Regions from separate parts of the Homo sapiens genome. Here regions 1 and 2 are each linked to region 3. The links come from fine-mapping of genetic effects on gene expression. A gene starts in region 3. Each other region holds a variant in brackets. All regions are shown on one strand. Distances are between the middles of the regions.

The links. PIP is the estimated chance that this variant, and not a neighbour inherited with it, causes the effect.
Region 1: its variant is fine-mapped to the expression of FBLN2 in thyroid (GTEx, PIP 0.99). The same link has a PIP of 0.9 or more in tibial nerve.
Region 2: its variant is fine-mapped to the expression of FBLN2 in tibial nerve (GTEx, PIP above 0.99). The same link has a PIP of 0.9 or more in thyroid.

Annotation. Positions count from the first base shown.
Region 1 is chr3:13,513,060-13,521,231 of GRCh38, reverse strand. No RefSeq gene overlaps it. Among named protein-coding and RNA genes, the nearest start is that of FBLN2, 32 kb to the left of the region's middle. RefSeq lists enhancers at 2,071-2,960, 4,334-5,262, 8,009-8,168. The variant G/A (reference allele first, on the strand shown) is at 3,677.
Region 2 is chr3:13,634,117-13,642,288 of GRCh38, reverse strand. It overlaps FBLN2 (fibulin 2), which reads right to left. Exons shown (of 18, transcript NM_001004019.2): 17 at 5,721-5,844; 18 at 3,885-4,727. The coding sequence ends at 4,370. Among named protein-coding and RNA genes, the nearest start is that of LINC00620, 13 kb to the left of the region's middle. The variant G/A (reference allele first, on the strand shown) is at 3,960.
Region 3 is chr3:13,545,637-13,553,808 of GRCh38, reverse strand. FBLN2 (fibulin 2) reads right to left here and starts at 4,684. Exons shown (of 18, transcript NM_001004019.2): 1 at 4,601-4,684. RefSeq lists enhancers at 2,106-2,712, 2,713-3,321.

The sequences.
Region 1 (8,172 bases), 33 kb after region 3:
CGCTGTATGTTTTTATTTCAGAAAGTTTCTAGCAGAAGTAGAGAGCGTAGTAAAATGACCTCCCTTCTCAGGAACCCCCAGGTTCCCTGCCCGGGACAGCTGCTCTTCCCAGCAGCTCACACACTGGCCCCTCTGGGAGTGGGGCTTCTGGCCTGAGAGTCCAGTGTCCCGTGGGGCTGTCAGGAAGGGATGCTGGTACCAAGCAGTCACCCAGAGTTCCTGGCTACACTGCCAGCCTCTCCCTGGGCCTAGCAGGGTCATCTCTGGATTGATACCTGCCTTGTGGGGCTGAAGGGGTGGAAAGGCCTTTGGGGGCAGGGACATGCAGGTGGGGTGGGGGCCCCCTGAGGTAGCTCAGCACTGTCTCACCCCAGCAGCACCTGGGCGCCCAGGGCAAGCGCCCTTCCTCCCCTCAGCCTTCTCTGCCCCCTGCCTTGGAGTCCCTTCCATCCAGCAAGTTCCAAGAACAGCCTGGAAAGAGCAGGAGCGGGGAGACAGAGGCCTAGGGAGTGTTGGGACTTGTCAGGGCCACACAGCATGTGCAGGGCAGGGACTCCGTCCTTCTCCATGGGCCTCAGTGTCCCAGTGTAGGCGATCCAGGTGGTCTTCCTCATGACAGAAAGGAGGACACACTGCAGCGGGGCTGGCTGTCATTTGCAAACCGCCTTGTGGTTCCTCCCTCCCATTTCACAGATGAGGAAACTGAGGGTCGGGAAGGAGGTGGGTTTCATTTGGCATCACACAGGGAGGCCAAAACAGAAAAGCCTTCAGGCCCAGGATCTCTATTCTTCCCTGGAGATGGGACTGAGGTTTCCTGAGGACAGAAGTTCCAACGGAAGGCAAGGAGGGGAAAACACTATGTTGATGTTGCTGTTTTGTTCTTTCACTTTTCCCTTGTTAGCCCTACTCTGTGCCAGGCCTTGGGAGAGGGTTTAGCCAAGTTCATGCTGGTGTTTTCCTCACAACAGCTGTGGGAGGAGGGAGGCTCCACCCCATTTTACAGATAGGGAAACTGAGACTCAGAGAGAAAAGGTAACTGGCTCAAGACTAACAACAAGCAAGTAGCAGAGCCAGGGAGGGGCCCAGGTCAGGGGCTGGGGAAGACCAAAACAAGATGAGGCCTGAAGTGGGGAGAAGGCATCCAAAATACCAAAGCTCTTCCCTGTCCTCAGTCTCCCAGGCTTCTAGCCATGGCCACCCACCACTTCTGGAAGGGGCCTGCTCTCTCGTGCCCCTGGGCTTTTGTACATGCTGTTCCTTCTGCTTAGAATGCTTAGCTCAAACGTCTCTTCCTCCAGGAAGCCCTCTTGGGCTGGAATAGCTCCTCAGGCCGAAAGCCCCTGAGCTTTCAGAGCACTGAGTTTGCTGGGCTGCTCAAGGGTGGGCTAGAAGCTCTGGGTCCAGACACTTGGAGGCTCTGCAGCCAGTGGACCTCTCTAGGAGGAAGAGAAGCTGATGGCTTGATTCTTGTCGGAGCTAGAGGACTTGCAAGCTAGCATGGAGCTCCACCCACGCTCTCCATGTTCCTGCAGCTGAGACAGGGGCTGCGGCGCTCTGAGGTCCATTGGGGTCGCTGTGGGTGCCCAGCTCCCTGGCCCCGCCCCAGCCCCAGCAGTCTCTCCAATGCTCAGGCTGCAAATGGGTGGGGACTCCTTGGGGACCTCATCCCACCTCCTGACGGGGGACCAAAGAGGGAAAGGGCCCCCAATCTCAGCCTGGCTGCCTCTTGGGAGAGGAGATGGAGGAGAATGGGGGCAGAACTCCCGCAGTGCTGGGAGAGGCCTGCCAGGCAGCCAGGGAGGCAGGAGCGGCAAAGATGGGGTTTCGGGGTAGGGGCAGTGCAGTCTCAGCCTAATCCTGTGGGTATCGGGCGGCAGCATCAGCACCACTGCAGGAAGGCCTTCCCAACAGACGCACACACACCATTGTCCCACTCCCCAGACTCTCCGTGTTTATTTCCCTCTTGTCCTCATTAGAATGTCTTCCAAACAGTCCAGCCCTGTGTGTCATAGGACCTGGGGGCAGGACTTCCAGTAATGCTGGGGCCAGGGTATCAGAGGAGGGAAGGATACCCGGCCTCGCCCACCCCCAGAGGTCTGGAGTCATTGGGGAGGGAAGAGGGGACTCTGGAGACAAAGTCAGCCGAAGCACTGTCACCAAGCTTCCCCCAACCCAGGAAGCCGCCCCTCCAGGGTCAGCCTCGGGGAAGGGAAGGACCAGCCCTGAGGACAACTCAGGGCTGAGTGTGCGACACCCAAGGCACAGTGAACCCAGAGTCCTGGTCTGCGAGGCCCACGGGCTGGGGCCTGCCTGGGTCTCGCCAGCCCTCCCAAGGCCTTGGCCCCAGGCCCTGATGCCTGGTCCCAGCTCCCAGGCCCTAGACTCTGCCAACCCTGGCAAGATGCCCTCCCTCCCCTCAGCAGGCGCCGCCTTCCTCCCCTAGCCCAGGAATTGCCCCATGTGTCCAGCCACACGAGGAGCTCCCGGAGCTGGCTTTGTCCCAAGCATCCTTCCAAGCAGAACATATCTGCTCCCGCCTGCAGGCTTCCCCGGGCCTCCTGCCACCAACCCTTGGGGGGGCAGCCACAACATTTGTGCTGAGCCCAGGCCGACAGTCCCTGGCACTGCCTCTGCAGGCGGGTGCCCACTCTTCACCTCGTGCCCGAGAGACCTTGGTAGAACGCTGGCCGAGCCTCCACCCTGCACTTTCTCCTCCCCACCGTCTGGCCTACATTCCTGGGATGGACCCAAGTTCCCATAGGCAGAGAATCCATCCCTGGGCTGGCATCGTTTGGGAAAAGCATCAAGGACTTGCCTGGAGGTATCCAAGGACTCCGAAGCAAGTGCCAGAGCAAACCCCACCCGTGCCTGCTTCCTTCCTCGGGCCCTCTGGATGGATAAGGGGAGGTGGAGGAAGACAGAGGCACAGAGGTCAGACTGCAGACCAAGCCTTTGGTGTACATGACAGCCAAGCTTTACCTCTACGGCATTGTGTTGGTGGCATTACTGTCCCGCTTTATAGAAGAAATGGAGAAAAAGAGAGAAAGGACCTGCCCAAGGTCACACAGCCAGGAAGTGGCACAGGCAGGATTGAACCCAGGACCCATTTTCAATGCCCCTGAAACCAGCCTGCCATGCTTGGGGCCTGAGCCTCACTTGAGCGGGCATGGGAAAGATGGCAGCCTCCTTCCCATCAGTGGGTAGGGCTGGAGGTCGATGGTCTTGGACCCTGGATTCACAAGGACCTTGGAGCCCAAGTCTCCACGCAGTAGCTGCCTCCTCCTGGATCAAGTTTATTAGGCCCTATAACTGGGCTCCTGCCTCAGTTTCCCTTGCTGCCTAGAAGGCTGGGTCCTGCTGCTCCTCCTGGGTCCAGGAGACAGTTCCTGTGTGGCTGTCCTGACCAAGGTTACAGATCCCTCACCTTCCTTCTAAGGTGGCTCCTGGTGCTCACTAAGCACATGTGAGCACCCTGGCCCCGGACCCCACCATGTGCCTCCTGTCCTTTTTCCTGGGCCTTGAGTTGGAAGGGCAGCAGGGACAGAGGGCTCCGCCCCCGGTTTCTCAGTAGAGGTAAAAGATGGAGGCCGACAGAGGGTCAGGGCCTGCCTCAGGCCACCCAGTGCACAACCTGGGTCAGCCAGGGACTGTCCCAGGCCTGGGAGCTGCAGAAGCC[G/A]AGGGGAGGGTGGGGCTGCCGGGGGCTGGGGCTGATGACTGCTCTATCTTCCAAACAACAGCAGCAAGGGATGGCAGCCAGGCTGTCGGGACAGCCTGTTCCCATAGCGGGGCCCAGGGGAACCTAGCCTGACCACACCTCGGCTATGCCGGGCCTGACATCTGTGCAGCTGCATCGGGTGACCCAGGCTGGCCCTGTCCCTGCTCAGTTCCTCCGAGGGCTGCAGCATGGCAGTAGCCCAGGGCCCGCGGGTCCACCATTTCCGCGGCTGATGGGGCTGGGGGTCCTCCCCGAGGTCAGGGGACCCATCCCCTGCCTCTGGGGGCACCTGCCAGGCTGGTGGAAGAAAGAAGGGGAGAGAAAGCTGAGGAAGCAAGGGAGGGAGCTGCCACCCACTCCGCTTCTACTTCCTGCAGCTTCTGTGAGGGGCTGTCACCTCCGGAGGCTTGCTGTGGGTGCACATGGTACGCAGAGACAGTGGACGTGGCTGGCCCACACCAGGCAGCTGTGTGCGGCAGAACCCTCGCATCCAGCCTAGAGTGCCTATAGCAAGGGCTGCCATCAAGACCACTTGCTTCTGGGCATGGTTCTGAGTGCTTTACATGAGCTGACGCATTTATTCCTCACAGCAACCCCAAGAGGCAGCTACTAATATTATCCCCATTTTATGGATGAAGTAAATGAGACTGGGGCGGTTAAGTCATTCACCTAAGGTCAAAGGAAAGTGGGCCCTGACCAGTGCCGTCCAGTTTATCCCAGTACCGGTACCCCTGTGGATGGAAAGGGTGAAGCCTGTTCCTCCCACGCCCACTGATGTCTCCTCCAACACCGCCCCCCGCCTCCCCCGCCTGGCCTGGCTGCCAGCAACTCCTTGGACGCTCCAGGTGGAAAAACAATTGTGGGGCTGGCTCGGGTGGCTGGAGCAGCCGGGAGCTCCAGGCTTGGTGTCCCACCTATGCCAAGCCGCCAGAGCAGGGTGGGGGATGGGAGCACTTGCTCAGGAGCAGGGTGGGGATTCAGAGGAGACGCTGGGGCCCACCAGGGATGGCAGAAGCAGGCCTCTACCCCGGCCTGGCCAAAGTCGGCTCTGGGCCTGCTCCCCACAGTCAGAAGGGCAGGGGGAGCCCCCCAGCAGGCACCAGCCAACTTCCCTCCCGACTGGAGCAAATGACTGAGTCTTTACCAAGCGCCTACTAAGCACCGCAGGCCCTGTTCCGGGGGTCGAGTCAGGGACAGACCCAATCCTGCCCCTTTACTGCCTGGCAGGAAGAACAGGCAAGGAAACACACAGTCTCAAGAATGCTTGCTTGTTTCAACTCCCTGGGGATCTCAGTTTGAGCTGAGGAAACTGGGGCTCTGGGAGACGAAGTGAATCGCCCAAGCACTCAGCAAGGCCGAGCTGAGATTCTGAGCCCTCGTGCCTGGGCTCTGAACTCACCCAGATCCCACCTTGGTGCCAGCTGCTTCTCATTGAGCACCTACTGTGTGCTGGGTCATTCCCAGGCCCGCCCGACCCTCCCAATGGCCCCCCAGGTGGGTATGGCCATTGCCATTTTAGAGAAGCGGTAGCCGAGGCTCCGAGTCGGGGAACCACTTGCTGAGAGTCACCTTGCTGGAAAGGGACCCCACCCCAGAGTGTCTGACCCCAGAGCCCACAGCCTCCCCCAGACTTTTTCTGGAAACTCCTGGCATTTAGGGGAGTGAGAAAGAGCTGTCCTGAGCAGGTCAGAGTGGTGTCAGGGATGCTGCCAGTGGGGCCACCTCCTACACTGGGGACAGCTGGGGGCTGGACCTTGGCTGACACTATCCTTTTACAATGATACGTTATTCATCTAGCTTAAGCCACACAGATGAGAACTCTCTAGATAATTTTGGTCTTTCCTTTTAGACAACAACACAGTTATAATTTAACTATTTTAAGAGGACATGAAGTCTACACAATGTCTTCTCTGCGTTAATTACCATGGTGAACCATTTTCAGGCCACAGACCAGTACAGTGAAGGTCTTGGTGCTCAGTGAGATAGGGAACGTTACTTGCACCTACACAAATGGCCCCAAACTGATATTTTGTTGTTATTCTTGTTCTTATGTCTGCATTTAACGGTTGTTCTGTCTCTCTCTTATTGTTGAGCTGTTATTTCTAAAAGCGCTAAGGGTTTGCTCTGGAAAGTAGAAAATAAGCTTGATGCATCTTGTGAGTGTCTGAGTTATCAATGGTTCTGCTGTGAGCAGAACTTAACAACAAAGGGAATTCACCAAAATAATAAATTACACCAAGTACTTATCGAGCTAGAGAAGCTCTGGGGACTCAAGGATTAAAATCAGGGTCTTGATTATGGCATGGTCACTAGCCTTTGCAGCAATTGTTTGCAAATTAGAAAAAGGCTCCACTTCTTCAAAATACTTTACTAGTGCCTACTAGAAAATTATTTTAATCAATACACAAATCTACTGTGATTACCGTGTAACAGCAGCCTCGAGAGTTGTGCAGTGCACAACCTGTGCAGATGCTCATGGCAGCCCTATCTTGACATCACCAGAATTCCCTCTTTTCCATCATGTTTTTTCTTTTTCTCCCTTCGTTTTACTATTTCATACCTCAGACAGGCTTTCTGTTTGTGGTGGGAAATATGGCTTCTCTAAAACTTGATAACTCAGAAGATAAAGTCCTTCCTCTTCCACTCAAAATGTAAAAGTAATGTAAGGACTCTTGAGTCACATGATATCTCTAAACCATCCCTATGATCAGGGAAATGGAAAGTGTATCAGCCAGGCTGATATCAGTAAGGTTATGCTGCAGAAACAAACCACCCTTAAGCATCAGGAGCTTAAACAATCAAGGTTTATTTATCGCTCACACTGGATGTCAGCCCTGGTTTGACTGGGAGACCTGAGTCATCTGGGATTTCAGGGACCCAGACTGTCGGGGGCTACAGCTTGAAATGTGCTCCCTCCATCGCTGTGGCAAAGGGGTTGTGGAGAATCGCACACTGGCTCTTAAAGCTTCCACTTGGAGGGCACACAAGCCACTGAGCTCATGGTTCATAAAACAAGTACATGCCACGTCTAGCCATGCAGGGGATGGAGGTGCAGGCCTGCCCAGCCTGGAAGAAGCCTGGTCTAGGGTTATCTGAGCTTGAATCACACACTTACACAGCCCCTGGAATCATAGCCTAGGTGGGCAGGGCACTGTGACTGTTCCAGCCTGGGACTGGGGAGAGGGAGCTCTTCAAGGAAGCAAGAAGGATGTCACCTGGCCCCAGGCAACCATGTAGGGCAGCTGCCAAGACTCAGCCAGCCTGGAGCGGCCACACCCAGCCTCTGGGCACTGCGGCCAGAGGAACCCGAAAAACCCAAAGGGACAAGAACTCCAGGGAAGAAACACACTCCGGCCCCGCAAAAAGCATGGGAGCAGCTGGACCTGAAGACATCTCTTCTGCCCGCAAGAGAGGCTTCAGATGTGCAGCCCTGGATGTGTTCACACCCTCTGGAGGCAGCCATGGGTGGGCAGAAGCGCCGGGTGAGTAAGGACCAATCATCCACATCCCCTGGTGTGGCTGAGACCTTCCTAAACTCCTGTACCACACTTTCCAGCCCGGTTTTACAGAGCAGGCTACTGGGGCTTGGATGGGTCAAGGGACCTACTTAAGTTCACAGAGCCAGCTGGGAAACCTGCATGTACCAAACACCTACCACACACCAGGCTGCATTCCATTCTCAGGAGTTCCCATCCCCAGGACACAGGAGAGAAAACGCAGAGGCCGGGCACATCGCAGTCAGGCGGGCCCACCCCCGAAGCATCTGCCCTCCCCACATCACTCTCTAGGTAATGGGGTTGGGAGGGACCCTTTGGGATTGGGGAGCCAAGGGGAAAGAGCAGCAGTCCTTTTTTAAAGGACGATGAGTGTGACACGTGACCAAGGAACTCGTGCACCAAGTGGGCGTCTGCCGGCTCGTGTTTAAGGCACATTCCTGAGCTCCAAAAGGAGAAATAAAACTGTTCCCTTGTCTGTGAGCTGAAGAGGCAGCAATATTGTGGGGTAACTAGGACCAGATGGGCTCCAGGAATTTCCAAAGGCCTTTTAGCATATTAGACAAAATAGCCTCCCAGACACACACGGTAACTTTGTCTGGCCGCCTGGTATCGGTTACCGAGACAACCGGTGGAATGCGCACACTGGCTGGAGGGTCCCAGAAGGGAGCGGGCCTCTGGCAAGGCCCCTGCACACTCCCCACTGCCACAGCAGGAGCCCCCCTCACACTTGATCCCTTCCCTCTGGTTCCAAGACCAGGGCACACCCTGAGAAACTCAGCCTCTCAGGGTTGGCAGGGGCTAGGAAAGTCCCAGAAACTGGGAAGTCCCAGATGGTTCCCACAGCCCCAAGCCTCCACTTGCACCCCTTTGAGGGGTGTGAGAGGTCACACCCCACAGGGCACCCAGTGTGGGGGTGACTGCGGCCAGCTAGGTGTCAGCCCCGGGCTCTACCACCCTGGC
Region 2 (8,172 bases), 88 kb before region 3:
ACTCTCACCTGGGCTTTGCCTCCCTGGCAGCAGACGCTTGAGGTACTATAAAAGTGTGGCGATGGGAGACAGTGCACGAATTTGCACTGCCCACTCACACTTCTCCCGACCAAGGGACACACTTTACAGCCCTGAATGTCCCACAAGGGGCAGAGCACTCTCATCCTTGGCGTAAGGTTGGATAGAGAACTGGAACATGTCATGGATACTGGTTGTCTAAAACAGAGGTGGTGGGGCAGGAAAGAGTGACTTGCACGCCATCACAAGTGTGTGTCCACCCCAAACATGAGAAGGGCCAGGAGAGGGTCCCTGCTAGATAGAGTCCCACACCTCTTCTTTTCTGTTTTTGTTTTGTTTTGTTTTGTTTGAGTCTCACTCTGTTGCCCAGGCTGGAGTGCAGTCATGCGATCTCAGGTCACTGCAACCTCTACCTCCCGGGTTCAAGCGATTCTCCTGCCTCAGCCTCCCAAGCAGCTGGGATTACAGACGTGCACCACCACATCCGGCTAAATTTTTTTTTTTTGTATTTTTAGTAGAGATGGGGTTTCACCATATTGGCCAGGCTGGTCTCGAACTCCTGACCTCAAGTGATCCACCCGCCTTGGCCTCCCAAAGTGTTGGGATTACAGGCGTGAGCCACTGTGCCTGGCCTCCTATGCCTTTTCTAAGAGAACTGGGGAAGGGAGGTTGCTGGTAAGACTGCTTTTCTTTTCTTCTCCACATCACCTCGCCTTCCTCCTTTCCTATCTGCTGCAGTGGCCCCAGGACCAGGGCTGCAGCTGCAAGTGCTGAGGTAGCAATGACTCCTAGGCAGGAGGGTGCACCTCTAGCTCCAAAGCTTCATGCCAGAGCTCCTGAGGGCTGATGGAGTGGATGGTGCCTTCACCCCATCCGGAAAAATCAGGGCTGCTAGTGAGGGCAGGCACATTGCCTGGTGGTGGAGACAGCCCACTAGTTCTACACCTGTGAAGCCCCATCCTACACCAACCGGAGTGGACTGTCAGGGAGGCACTTGCTAGGCTGGCATTGCTTCTGACAATCCGGCCCAACAGCATGGCCGAACCTCATGGCCCTTCCAAAGGTGGAAATACCTGGATACAAATGGAGAAAAGGAGGAACCGGAGCTGAGGGTAAAGCAACCAGTACGTGGGTTATGTAGTGAGGGAAATCCTTTTTTTTTTTTTTTTTTTTTTTTTTTTGCGACGGAGTTTCGCTCTTGTTGTCCAGGCTGGAGTGCAATGGCACAATCACAGCTCACCACAACCGCCGCCTCCCTGGTTCAAGCAATTCTCCTGCCTCAGCCTCCTGAGTAGCTGGGATTATAGGCATGTGCCACCACACCCAGCTAATTTTGTATTTTTAGTAGAGATGGGGTTTCTCCATGTCGGTCAGGCTGGTCTTTAACTCCCAACCTCAGGGGATCCGCCCACCTCGGCCTCCCAAAGTGCTGGGATTCCAGGCGTGAGCCACCGCGCCCGGCCGGGAAATCCAATTTTACGTGAATCCTACATTACAGTACTACCTTAAGAGCGGCGTGGAGGGCATCGTCTCAGCTCAACTACACTAGATGCCTGAAAGGGTGACGCCAAGGCCGCCTCTGCTTTTGGAACTTGACAAGGTCGAATGGCAGCCTGCAAACCTGAGTGGCCTCACCCTGGGGGACATCTGCTGATCTGATGTGGTGATGGACTAGATAAACTGCTATGACTGAGTGGGACTCCGGTCTTCCTTTTTAGGTGACATCCACCAGACTGCAATATGGTCCTACCTGGCACGGTTGATAAGGTTATAACGTTGATGGTGATGGCAAATGTATTGAAACCCTGAGTTCCAGCCTCCTCAGGATGTAGCAACGATGGAGAATGACACCTGCGGAAGAGCTAGGTGGAGCCAACCCCGGGCTAACGCCTGCACACGGTGGTTCTTTACATGCTTCATAGGCACGGGCAGCCCTGCCACAAGGGAGGAAGCAGGCAACGCTGAAGGAGCTGCCCAGACAAACGTGACTATTCCACTGCGAGAACGCTGGGGCCGGGGCCGGGGGTGGCCTGCAGGGTGAGCTCTCGGCCCCCAGAACGTCCTGGCTGGCACTGGAGTACCAGCGTTTTCAGGGGCTTTGCTGCCTCAGTTCTGACCTCTGCGAGGGACTGGAGACTTAGGGCCAGCCACGCTGACAGCCAGGTGGTCAAGCTCCCAGACACACCTGGACCCCAAAGGTGCCCTGTTCAGCTCTATTCTGTTGTGCTGCATCCTGAGGACACGGGAGCTCCGTGACTGGGCTCTCCTGGACTCTGCTCTAGAATTCATCAATGACTTTAACCTGCTTCCTTTCACCATAAACTGTCTGAGTCATGCAGGTGAATTAATGAGCCTGAGGGTGGATGTAAGGACCCCCAAACCTGTAGCCCATTGCTCAGACGTGAGGGTGGTCCTAGGGATGCCTGAGCTTGTTTCTGGTGTGCAGTTCTTGGTCTGCAGTGAGGGTAGTCTTGTAGGGGCTATTCCCTGAAGCTGCAGTTTGCCAAACTTGCCGGCATGGAATTCTAGAATCACCTTAGAAACTCTAAGGTCCGGAGAGAAGTTGTTCTCCAAGACCCTCCGTATGGATGCGCTGGGTGCCAAGTTCATTTTACTGGCTCGATGGCCTGTGCAGGAAGAACAGCTGGAGCCCCTGTTCACAGGGGAGACCAGTGAGGGGAGGCGAAGTCACTTGCCTGAGGTCCCAGAAGGAGTAACCGGGGCTGGGTAGGAGCAGGAACGGCTGCTGCCAGCCAGGGGTGTCCCTAACCTGCCTGTCCTGTTGAATGGAGCCTGTCACCTACTGGTTCCCGCTGGTGGGGACTGTGCACCACAAAGGTGCCGGATCTAGTTTTTCTGAAAATCAGCAAAATAGAAGGAACAGAGACAGCCCGGACAGGGACAGGGAAGACCTGGCTTCTGCTGCACCCTTGGGGATGGGGGCCGGCGAGGAGCAGGGACAGAGGGCCCCCACCGCAGGCTTCCGGCAAGAGGCTCCCAAACACCTGTCCTTTAGAAGCCTGAGCAAGTCGCCACCTCTTAACACTGAGAGAGTTTGTGTTGAGGAATGAGAACATCTGGCCATCCCGGGCCACGCGCCCAGAAGGCGGCCTTGCTGGAGCCAAGTGTAGGCGCCCCCTTCACACAGGGCATGTGCTGCCCAGCGCGCCCCGACAGGCCTGCTTCCCTCCACCCACAGTGAGAAACACTTTCTACCAAAAGCCAGAGCTAGCGTGCCCACGCATAGGTGCACACGCCCCATGTACTGTGGTTTGGTGAAGCAGTTCTTCTCTTTACAGGGTGTGAAGCACTCATATCTCATCTGCTCTATTCTACGTCATTTTAAAAGTGCTGGCTGCCGCCCCCTATATTTAACTCTAGACCCACGGAGCCCGAGCAGGGTCATCAGAGCTGGGTCCCGACACCTGCTCTGATGCTCGCTGTGGGCTGGGGGCACATCGCTTCCGCTCTCAGGGCCTCAGTTTCCCAGGTTCCTTCAGGCTCCTGCCCAGGTCTACTGCCTGACCTGACAGCTCAGCAACAGGGGCCAGGACAAGTTCTGGACAACATCCAAGTGACAGGCCATCAGTGGAGGTCTTCATGGGGGGAAGGCAGAGGAGGGAGGAGGGAGGAGGAAGGAGGAGGGAAAGCTGAAGTGGTAAAAGCAGAATAAAGAGCCTGGTCAGTGACTGATCACACTGGGGTGCCCTCATCCCAAAGTGAACTTCAGGTTCGGGGCTCGTTGAGAAGGACATCAAGGTCTTCATCAATGAATTGACATGCTGGCCAGGCCATAGAGCCCTGTGACATCTGGACAACGTTGTCAAACTCTGAACACTTTACAAAAGTAAAGGGACCAAGAGGCGTTTTCCTCTGTTACTTTATAACCCTTTCATACTAGTTGAACTTTTTTTTATATAATGTACATGTACTACTTTATA[G/A]TTAAACAAAAAACTTTAAAATGATTTTTTAAAAAAGAAAAGAATTAATCACAGTGGAACATGAAATGGAATGTCAACTTTGGGGACGGGTCATCCAGAGGAGTCCAAGAGCCCCAACATGGTCGCGTGTCTCTGGTCCTCAGGTCATCACCCAGCCTCACCCACAGGGCACCCGCCACGGCCGTGGCCCACCGTGCAAGCTTCCACTTGGTGCCTGCGTGGGAACGCACCACCTGCCGTGGAACTTCCTCCTGCGGGGCAGAGGAGGGGTCCAGAAGCCACAGGAGTCAAGTCAGCAAAATTAAGTTAATTTACAAAGTTATAGTAAAAACCACAATAGTGACCCAGTCCCTCCCACGCAGTGTGAGCCCTGGGCTGCGCCACACCCGCAGGTGGCCCGTGCTGGCACCTCACAGGGCAAAGGTGGTGAAGAAGATGTGCATCTTGGCCAGGAAGGTGGTGACGGAGCCCTGCCTCCAGAGCTTCATCTCCACGTCCAGGGCAAAGTCCCGGGGCTCCAGCACGGCCCGCTGCAGGTAGACCACACCCGTGTAGGCATTGAGCCTGCGCGTGCCAAAGTAGCCCTCCTCATTGCCCTTGATGATGTTCAGGGCGATGGTGTCCCCCGTGAAGGCTGGCGCGGGGCCAATGCGGAAGATATGCGCAGGCACCAGGAGGCCCGTCTGGAAGTTGAGCTGGTAGTGCGTGATGCGCGCTGGCGAGTTCTGGCACTCCAGGAAGTCATGGCACGTGGTGCGCTCGCACTTCCTGCAGGGAGGATAGGCCGGGTCACCCACAGCTCGCCCACCCCCCTCATCCCCAGACGGGGACACAGATGGCACAGCTCAGCGGCAGGATCAAGGGCCAGCTCTCTCCCTAATGGCCGGGAAGCCTCAGGCAAGTCCCCTTACGTCCCCTGGGTCTCAGTTTCCTTGCCTGCGAGATGAGGTTAATAAAACCTTCACCGGCTCACTGGAATGGGTGAGTTTAGCATGGCACTGGCCAGGCTCGTTAACAGCTCTTACCTGTCCCCATGCTCCTTTCTTCCTCCCTCCTGCCATCCTCCCATTCTTCCTTTCTCCTTCCTTTTCCCTCTCCCCTTCCCTTCCTCCTCCTTCTCCCTTCTTCCCAGTGCACCCAGTGTCCCTCCCAGGGTCCCTCCCAAGTGCCGGGCCGTGTGGCTGGTGGCAGAGTAGCGGTCTGTCAGTTCTGAGGTTAAGTGAGGTTAAGGGGCTGCCGCTGGCACTTCTGATACACTGAGCTGGGGAGTGGCATGTCACAAGCAGCCTTGTGGAGGGGCTCATGTGATGCGGAGCTGAGGCCTCCTGCCCAGAGCCCCATGAGCAGTGGCAGGATCCCGCACCCCGGACAGGCAGCCCCTGAGATCCTGAGCCAGACCACCTAGCTACACCACTCCCAGGCTCCTAGCCCTCAGACACTGCGTGACAAAGAGTAAGTATCTGTTGTATTCTGGTGCTAAATGTTGGTTGGGATAACTGGTCACACAGCAGTAACTACCATGTGTGTGTATGAGGAAGAGGGCTGGTGTTTTCTGTGTGTCTTTTCCCCTTCCTTCTCTCAACCCTGAACTCTCTAAAAGCTACTTATATTTGTTTTGGTCACCTAGCCCACAGACCCAGCAGTCAGGGGCTGGGACGAGAGGGAGGTGATCAAGGCAGGCGCCCATCTCTCAGCCTCTCCCTGGATAGTACAGGACCAGGACAGGCTCCCTGGGACTGGGACTGGGGTGGGGACACTCACGTTTTGGAGACTTGGACATAGTTGGGAGGACACTCGAAGCGCAGGCAGCGGAAGCTACCCTGGATGTTGTGGCAGGTCTCAGCCTCGGAACAGTTGTGGGTACCCAGTGCACACTCATCCACGTCTGGGGGAGAAGAGGGGCAATGGCAGGGTCCCCACAGCTGGGGGACCCAGCCTGAAACTCCCCAGCCTGCATGAAAGGCCTGGGCCCCACGGCAGCCGGACCTGTGAGAATAGCCCGCGTGCCTCCCTGCACACACATGCCCCATCTCACCTGCTCGGCACCCCGCAGCAGGGGGCCTGGCTCTAAAGTGTCAATCACCTCATGTCATGCCCTCCCAAGGCTTCTCGCGCTCCAGAATAAAGCCCAGCTCCCTCCCCTGGATGCCAAGCCACACAGTGCAAGGCTCTCTGGCCTCTCTAAGCTCCTTCTCTTCCACAGAGGCCACAGTCCTGCTGGACATCCTTGGGCTGCCCCAATAGCCTGACCCTTATCCTACCCAGGGCCTTTGCTGCTGCTGGAACGCTATCCCCAGCTTTTCCTACTGCTGGAGGCTTCTCATCTTTTAACTCTCAGATCTTGAGTCACCCCCTCCAGGATGGCCTCCCTGACCACTCTACAGTGGTCCTCCTGCCCCATCACCCTCCATCCCACCCCATTTTATCATCCTCCTATGGCTCCATGCTCTGCAACACACCGAGGCTGTTTGGTATGGCTGCATGTTTTGTATGTTTCTACCGTCCCCCCTCAACCTGGGCTCCAGGAGGGCAGGGGTGTTTGTCTTTCTCATTCCCATGCTGTCCCCAGTGCCCAGTGGAGTGCCTGCATGGAGCAGCGCTCAATACTTCTTGCTGGATGGAAGTCCAAGACCCATCACTTGCAAGTCCCGACTCCGAGACGCAAAGCTATGAGTCAATGTCCCCCATGAGCAACAGACGTGCTCACGCTTCCTGTACATTCAGAAGCAAACATACATGTGCAACTCCAACAGGCACATAGGTTCAGCACACACGTGAGCACACGCACACCTCCACAGGTGCACAGAAACAAACACACAGAAGGCCCATTTGGGACAAAGAAACATACACATATAAACGTCAACAGACATATGAATAGATACCATTCACGAAAGCTCAGAGAAGCAGGGGTGGGGTAGGGGTGTGTGTGGGTGTGTGTGTGTGTGTGTGTGTGTAACCCACAGGCACCCTGGAGGACAAAAGGTCTTAGAAATGGGTTCTTGAGAAACTTTGAGGATGAGCTGCTCAGCCCAGAGAGGGCCGCCTCAGGAGGCCTCCAGAAAGTCCCGTGGGGTAGGGGCAGGGGGTGTTCCAGGGGCAACCACAGAGGGCTTCAGTTTTTGTTTTCCAATCCTCCATATTGACACCATTTAGGAATTTGTCCTCACTCAGTCCTCACACCAGCCCTGTGCAGCGAGGGTCACTGGCTTCCTCAGACAGAGGAGGGTGTGGAGGCTCAGAGAGGGGCAAAGCCTTGCTCAAGATCACACAGCAGCGAGCGGGGCAGCAAGTCAGGCATGCCTGATGCCAAAATCTGGGACCCAGTCATGATGCCAAGCTGACTCCTAACAATAACAACAACATAATAGTAATAATACCAATAGTCAGCCTGCCTCCAGAGTTTACTGCCTGACATCCCTGTGATGCTTGAGGGACTCTGCACCCACGCCAACCCCACGGGGCAGGTGCAGGTGTCCACAAATGTGCCCAGGGTCACATAGCTGCCAGGGCAACGCCAGGACTCAATACCCCCGGACCGCCTCAGACTCTGGGCTCTTGGCTGCCAGGCTCTCTTGTAGCGGGTCAGCTCACATCTATTTACCTCTCCAGGCCTCACTTCCCTCCCTCCGTAAAATAGGCCCCAGGGTGGCGCAGAAGTGAGTGGGAGAAAACACGGCAAGAGGCCAGGCAGGGTAGAGCCCAACCGGGTGGTCCCAGGCTGCTGATTATTCACTCGTGGACTCCACATGGAGAGGGCCTCCTCCTGCTCCTTGGCCTATGCCCCCGGTGGCCCGCTCCAGTGACCCTGGAGCTTATGTGGGTGGGGCAGGAAGGACGTGGGAGCTTTTTGCTTTGGCTCTGGGCTGCTGCTGATGGAGATGCCCAGAAGGGAAGGGCCAAGAAGGGTGAGCGGCTACAGCCTGGCCTCACCAAGCTCGCGGGAGGCGGTCAGTCGCAGGTCTTCCCTAACGCCCCAGGGCCTCGCCCATCGGCGCTGCCAGGCCCCTGGAGAGCGCAGGCTAACGTGGGAGCTGGACTAGGCCCCGTATCCAGGGCTGCCATCACAGCCTCATCAGAGACAGCCAGGGTCAGCCGCAACTCAGATGTGCAAAAGTGGGTGACAGAGCAAAAAGGACGAAACAGGGGAGTCCTGCAAAATTCAGCCCCGGAAGAGAGGCTTCCAAGGGCTTCTGAAGGACTTGAGGCCCAGAAG
Region 3 (8,172 bases):
GGCCCGGCACAGGTGGGTGGCACCACTTCCTCACCAGCACACAGACCTGGGCGGGACGCACTGGCCGCCTACAATACAGCCCCTCTCAGGAAAGCCAGGCTCCCCACCCTCGAGGAAGGAAATAACCTTTCCCCAAACCAGCACTTGCTTTGCAACAATCTCCATATATGAGGGGAGAGAGAGGCATTTCTGCAACGTTTCCAAATTCCAATAACTGAAGACAATGGCACAAAATGACGCACGGCTTGACCCACGAGGGGCCCTGGGAAAGGACGTGCCCAGCTGAGGCGAGTTTGTGGTGTGGGCGTGCAGTGGTGCCCCGTACACGAGGGCAGCTCGCCAGGCAGGACCTGGAGGTGGACGGAGCTGGCTCCCGTCCCAGCTCTTCCTCCTCAGTCGCTATGTGACTGCAGGCAAGCACGCCCCACTCTGCGCCTCAGTTTCCCGGCCCTGTCACTCTCACAGGTCTCCCACCTGCCGCCTTGTCCTCTCCAGGCCCACTCCTACACCTGGGCTGCAGAGGGACCCTTCAACCTCACAGTCTGGCCGCGCCTCCTCTGCTCGGAACGCCCTGAGGCTGCCTGTTGCTCGCTCGCAGACCAGGACTGGAGGGCCTCCGTTTTCAGGGTCTAGTTGGCCTTGCCAGCCTTACTTCCCACTCTTCCTCCAAGCCCCCACTCTGAAAGAAGCCAGGCTTTCTTCTGTCCCCAGGTGCCCCTCACCCCTGTACCTTCATATCACAGTGCCTGCGCCACCTCCAGGAAGCCCTCCCTGACCACCCAGGCTCAGCTAGATGCCTCCTCAGTTCCCATGGCTTCAGCGTTCTCCTCCAGGATGGCCCCGACAAAGCATTTCAGAGCAACCCATGCAGGCACCCCTGGGGATGACCTTAAAAGGGGCCCTGTGTTCCGCTCCTCTGTACACCAGCCCCTGGCACAGCATTGGCCCACACCAGAGGCTACTGCCAGCACTGTGGGGTGATGAAGAGAATCCAAGGCCCTGGGCACACTCCCTGGCAAAGGGTTTCATAGAGCTGCTAAAGCAGGAACGCCAACTCCAGGGAGCCCCTCCCTGGCCGCCCCCACACAACACCCAGTCACAGCTCCCAGCCCTCCCGAGGTGAAGCCACAAACCCACTGCTCCCACCACCCTATAATGCCTGGCTGGAGGTACAGCCCTGTGGTCCCCTCTGCCCCTGTAGCATACAGGAGCAGCGCCTCTGTCTGGTCTATTGGGAGGGTAGACCTCTGCAGCCCCAGCATTCAGAAGGCGCCCTGGAGGCAGAGCTGCCTGCAGCCACACGGACACCTGCACCACCCACACTCGGGGACCTGGGGAAGGAAACTGGATGACAGAGGGCTGCTAAGGACCAGAAGCCATGCATGGTGTTTACGTCCACCACCGGGCAGGACAGCCGGCCTCACCCTGGCCTCCCCTTTCACTCACTCCACTTCCAATCCATCAAGAAATCCTGGCAGCCCCACCTGCAAAGTCAGTCCAAATCTGACCACTCTCACCTCCAATGCTGCCACTGCCCTAATCCAAGCCCCAACTTCTCTCACCTGGAAGCTGCATGGATCCCCACAGCTGCCCTCCAGCCTGTTCCCTGCCAGCAGCAGTGTGGGGGAAGGGACCTTTAGGATCTCAATTAGACCCCACCCCTCCCCAAACCAGAATCCACCAGCAGCTCCTCATCACACCCAATCACCTGCACCTGCTGTGAGTGAGGATCACTTGAGGCCAAGAGTTCAAGATCAGCCTGAGTAACAAAGTGAGACCTCATCTCTACAAAAAATAGAAAATTAGCTGGCTGGTGTGCGTCTGTAGTCCCAACTACTTGGGAGGCTGAGGCTGGAGGATCACTTGAGCCCAGGAGTTTGAGGCTGCAGTGAGCTGTGATCACACCACTGCACTCCAGCCTGAGAGACAGGACGAGATCCTGTCTTTAAAAAAAAAAAAAAAAAGGAGGGGCCGGGCACGGTGGCTCACACCTGTAATCCCAGCACTTTGGGAGACTGAGGCGGGCGGATCACGAGGTCAAGAGATGGAGGTCAAGTGGCTGTGCAATCTTCACCTTAGGCCCGAATTTGCTGCAGAGAACCCAGTTTCACTTACCATCAGCATGCCCCAAGCATTTACGAAGCACCTATTGCGTGTGAGGTGTGGATGGGCTCAGGGCACTCCCCCCACGGCCAAGGAGACCAAGTCCTCCCACTAGTGGCTCAGTAAGAGGGGCAAAGAGCTTTGCTTTGGAGGGAAAAGATCCTGGGCTGAACCCCAGCTCTCCCCCTTGCCTGCTGGGAGGCCCTTTCTCTACCTCCCCTTCCCCGTCTCTTAAATAGGTGCAAGAGTTCCACCCTGCAGGAGGGATGTCGGGATCTGGGAAGAAAAGTGATGAATAAAGCCTGCCTCGGAGAATGCTCTCTGGCATGAGCTCTTGCTTCACGGGGTCCCCATACCACCGTCCCCCACAGCCTAGCAGGAAGTGTCTGCCACCATCACAAAGATGCCCTGTGGCCCAGGGCCCTGGGCACCACTCATTGCTTCAACGACTAAGGCCTCGAAGGGTAGGAGGCCCGCCCAGGGCTTCCCCAGCCATGCATGGAGGACCAGCCTGGGCCTATGCTTGAGGCGGGCAATGGAGCAAAATCAGCCCAATGCATGCAGCAGTCACAGCCGCACAAAGGCCACGCAGGCCAGGCAGGAGCTGAGAAGGCATGAGAGGGCCAGGTGGGGACGGGGACCAAACAGCGCCCCTGCCCCATCCCCTGGGTTGGGGGTGGGCAGCACCAGCCAGGAGATGCAGATCCTGAACTACCAGACCTTGTGACTTTTCAAGAGAAGACGGAAATCCGGACTTTTACGTGAAAACTGCCAATTTGTAAATGCAGGCAGCTAATTAATTTTTTAAAATAATAATAACATGGTGAGAGCCAAACAAAACATGCAGGGCCAGCCACAGCCGGGGCTGGCAGGTTTGTGCCTCCAGAATAAGATTCTTTGACTTCATCCCCTGCTCACCCCCATCACACAGCTCAGCTGCAGAAGGGGAGGGCGGGAAGTCAAGGGTGCACCCCAGGGGAGTAGCTCCCCCTCCCTCTCTTCCTCCTGCTGGGGAGTCTTCACCCCATTTGGCATATGGGGAAGTTAAGGCCCAGAGCCCCTATCAGCCACAAACACACACCAGCTCCCAATCCATGCCAGGCTGAGGGAACACTTCTCAGCTGCCACCCAATTCATCAGGGCTCCCTCTGGGAGGGCCCGGACCAGCATCTCAGGGGCATCAGGGTAGACACAAGCACCCAAACCATCCTGTTTGACTTCCCTTTTTCTCTTTTTGGCCTGTCAGGGGACGCCTGCTGGCTCAGGCCTGCTTGGGACTGGCCCAAGTGATCACTGCAAAGCTGATATGGGCAACTCCTTGTGGCAGCAAAAAAGGGAGGGAGGGCACCCCTATTTCGGAGACTGGAGCAGGGGAAGGGAGAGAGGATGCACGGAGGTGAGGAGTCAGGCCCAGCCTGAGGCTGAGCCACCCCCATGCTCCCCACAGCCACCCAGGTCCCATGGTAAGCAGCCTCTGTCAGGAGGAACCACCTCCCTCCTCCAAAATCGGCTCCCCACCCCCTAGGACAGGGGAGGACTGCCCATGGAGTGCCAGGGGGGCTGGGACTGTGAAGTCGTGGGGGTCTGTGACTCGTATGTGAGACTCACAGTGTGTGGCACTCCCAGTGTTTGTGATTCCAGGTATTTGAGGAGCACACGCATGTGAGAGACACATGTGTGATACATATGATGGAGATATGCATGTGATAGCTACCCCTGTGTGGCGGACGTGTGTGCGTGTCAGAGGGCAGTAAGGGCACATGTGTTTATCAGAGACACAACTGTCTGCTAGAGGCATGCCTCGGAGGGGTGCCAATGTGCAAGGCATGTGTGTGTGGAGCATTGTGTGCTAAGGGGACGTGAGATGAGTGTGAGAGATTCTGGCCTGGGGGAGCTGGCGGGGTGAGCATGGGGCTGGGAGAGGGAGGATGTGGTGACAGGCAGGGTGGGCGCGCCAATGCAGAGCGTGCAGAAACTTCTGCTTGTGTGAGTGCGTGTGTGGCGGTGAGTGTGACTTGGGGGTGATGGAGGGGGTAGTGTTAGACCAGGGACTCTAGTCTTCTTTCCCCGAGGGGGTTGACCCGGCCCTCTGGACTGGAGGGGCGGCAAGGTCCTGCGGTCGGGGTGGGGGTGGGCAGTGGGACCAGAGGGGATGACTGGTGGGAGCCGGCCCAGGGGGGAGAAGTGAAACCCAGAGCGGAGGAAGCTGCGGACCTGGGGTGGGGGAACCCGCCCGCGGACCCCTGGCCCCCACCCCGCGCCGGCCTCTGTGCCCGCATCTGTACACTGGGTCGCGGCGCTCGCGGGCCGTCCCCGCGCTGGGACCGGGAGAGCGAGACCCGGTCGGACCGGCGGCGCGGGTGGAGGCGCGGGCAGCCCGCGAGGCGCGTCCGAGGGTCCGCCGAGCCGTCGGTGCGTCCGAGCGCCCCCGAGTCCTGAGCTGCGAGGCGCGGACCGACGGGGATGAGTCCGGGCGGGAGGGGCCGCGTGCACTCACCGCGGGGCACTGCGCTCGGCGTCCGTCCGTCCGTCCGCCCGGCCGTCGGCGCGTCGAGAGCCCGGGCGGCCCCTGGCTGTGTGCGCGCGGGGCGGGGCGGAGGCGCGAGAGGCGGGACCAGCCGGCCCCCGGCCCCCTCCCCTGACTCCGCCTCCGCCTCCGGGGCGGGGTCTCGGCCGCCCGCCGGAGAGGGGGCCGGGCCGGCGCCGCTCGCTCAGAGCCCAGACTCGCTGACCCGGCTCCTAGAGGCCGCCCGGCGCGCTCGCTGCGGAGCCCGCACCCTCCCTGCGCCCGGCCTAACCTCTGAGTGCCAGACCTGGCACTGCTGCCCACAGGGCAGGGCCAGGGGTTGGGGTCCGGCCACCTCAGCCAGCCTGAGCCTCAGTGATCACCCCTGGAAGATGGGCCCAGCAGCCTTGGGCACATTGTGAGGGCCTGAGGGGCCCGGCTACAAAACTGCCCAGAGGCCAGGCCCTGCCTCCCACCCGCCTTGCTTCCTACCCTGGGGGCCTGCCTGCAGCCCCACTGCTGCTGCATGTGCCTGGGCAGACGGTACTGAGCCCCCAGCTTTGGAACAGGTTCAGTTTGTCCTTTTCCTCAGCCCAGCTCTGATGCCTGTGACCACTGTGTGACCCCCGGGGTGTCTCTTCCCCCAGCCCACACCGATCCCTTTCTGGGTCTCTTTCGGGGTCTCCATCTCTGATCTAATGTCATCTCTCTGTCTCCCTTGGTTTGTCCCTCTTGGTCTCTGCATCTCCCTCTGACTTTATCTCTTGGTCTCTGTGTCTCTCTGAGTCTCTCCCATCCCTGTCCAGAGACGTATGGCCTGGTGGTCACCACCTCACATCTGAGCAGCAGCCATGGGCCCAAAGTGTGCCTGCCCCCACCCCCAGGGGTCTCCCTGCAGCCCAGGACAGGGGTGAGGCAGCCAAGAGCAAAGGCACAGGGCAGGGCAGCTGCCTGCCCAGGGCCGCACAGCAGAGAGGAGGTGGAGCCAGGAAGGGCCCATTGGCTTAGATGGGGCCACCCACAGAGAAGCCAGGAGCGGATGGAGGGGCCAAAGCCTGAGCTGGCAGCCTGTGCCTGGCCTGCCCCAACTTGTGTCTAACCCCAGGCAGGTGCCTTCCCTCTGGGCCCGTTTCCCCATTGGAGCTCTGTGCTTGCTGTTCCCTCAGGGCCTTTGCCATTGCTGTTCCCTCTGCCTGGGATGCTCTTCCCCAGATCCACCGTGGCTGACTCATCCCTGCATTAAGATGCAGCTGAAATCCCACCACCCCCAGAGAAGCCCTCCCTGAGACCCCAGCAGAGGTAGCAACTACCACTCTCCACCCTGGGACTCGGCCGCACTGTTATTACAGTACTTGTCACTGGCTGATTTCTCTTATTCATTTATAAATGACTATAGGTAGGATCACCTGGTCATTAAGAAAGTCACCACACACCAGCTGTGTGACCTTGGGCAAGTTACTTCACCTCTCTGGGCTTTATTTCCTCAACTGTAAAATGAACATAACGACATCAAAGCCTATCTTATAATGTTATTGGAAAGATCAAATGAACCGAAATGAGCCAAACCGAAAGTACAGATGCTCCTCGATTATAATGGGATCATGTCCCCATAAACCCATCGTAAATCGAAAATATAGTAAGTTGAAAATGCATTTCATCCACCTAACCTACAGAACATCATAGCTCAGCCAAGCCTACCTTAAATGTGCTCAGAACACTTCCATTACTAGCCTACGGGTGGGCAAAATCATCTAATACAAAGCCTATTTTATAATGAAGCATTGAATATCTCATGTAACTCATTGAATACTGCACAGAAAGTGAAAAACAGAATGATTGCCTGGGGATTCCAAGTAGGGTTTCTCCTGGGTGTGTACCACTTTCTCAACATCCTAAATTCAAAAAATCCTAAATCGAACCATCGTAAGTCAGGGATTATCTGTACTTTGGATGGGACTTGACCCAAGGGAGTGCTCAGTAAATATCTGATGAGTAAATGACAGATTGAATCCTTCCTCCTGTGGGGGAAGGAGGGGCAGTGGCCTGGGGTGATAGAGACCCTGGGCAGCTGCTAATGAGGCTCCCTTCCCCAGGCCTGGGAGGAGAGGCACTGAGCCAGATGCAGCTCACTCTGCAGCCCAGGGAGCCCAAGGCCTGGCCCGCCTTCCACAAGATAAAGTGGAGACACTTCTCCCGTCCTGTTATCTGAGCCGGAGATGCGGCCAAAGCGGCTGTCCCTTCAGAGCCCTTCCAAGACTGTTATCGCAGACAGAGCACGCATCACCCACCAGGAATTTGGGGCCCAGGGCCTGGCTGAGAAATGGTTGGAGGAAGTCAGGCTGATAAGGCCTAGACAGAATGATCACAGTGGGCAGCGAAGTTATTTACATCAGTGACAATCTCACCAGCTCCCTGGGCACTGAGGCGCCAGGGCCAGCAGGCATGAGGCTCACTTGTCCCACCTGTGCAGCCTGGATTGGGAAGAGAAGCCTTGCTGAGCTTCCTGGGTCTGCATCCTCACTGGGTAGCCTTGGGGAGGCTGCCTACGTTGGAGCATGGGTTCTGGGACCCAATGGCTTTGATTTAAATCCACATCCTCCCTGTATGACCTTCAGCAGGTGGCTTCAACCCTCTGGCCTCAGTGTCCTAGCCTATAAAGAAGTTCCTGCCTTATAGGATTGTTTTGAAGTTAAGATGCTTACAGCAGTGTCTGGTATATCATAAGCCCTCCATTAAATGTTTGTTGTTGTTAATCACAAACAACATTAACTTGAGCTGTTTGGATGAGAAAAGAAATTTGTGATCACAGTGTGCCTGGAAACCAAGCTTCGGGGAGAAAGGCCCAGTGACAGGGCCCAAAATCTCGCTGCCCACCTGGGTGCAGACAGCGTGAGGGCTGCCCACTCCTTGAATGGTGGGCCCCGGACTCCCCGCCAGGACTTCTCCCCAGCTCCCTCCAAGGGTCACAGTGCCTCTCCTTCCCCAGCAGTGGGTTCGGCCCTGAGCCTGCTTAGTCATCTCTCCCACCTCCCATTTGACAGCAGCTGCAGCCACAGTGGGGGCAGTGTGGGTCTCCCATCTGTCCCCAGTTGCAAGAGATACTAGGAAAGTCAGTGTCCAGGCCCCCCAAGACCCTCGAGGGGAAGAATTCCACACGATAGGAAAGATATCTAGACATAGGCCCACCTCCCCCAGGGGACAGCCCCACCTGCCATCCTGCTGCCCAACGAAGACCCAGGACACCACACCCGCTCCCAGGCTTTAGAACAAGGCTTCTCAGACCTGGCAGTGCATCTGAATCACCTGGGGAATTTCTCTTTTTTGTTTTTTTTTTTTTGTTGTTGTTGTTGTTTTGGAAATACCACTGTCTAGACTCTACTCCAGAACAATTAAATCCCAGTCTCCAGAGGGTGGAGTTGGGCATCAGTACTTTTTTTTTTTTTGTAATCCCCAGTAGGTTGTAAGATGTGCTGCCAGATTTGAAAAACACCACTTGGGGTACCTCCCTCTAGCCTTCCTCTTCCAGCTTTGTCCCTCCCCAGAGTGAAGAGTCTAAGAGAACA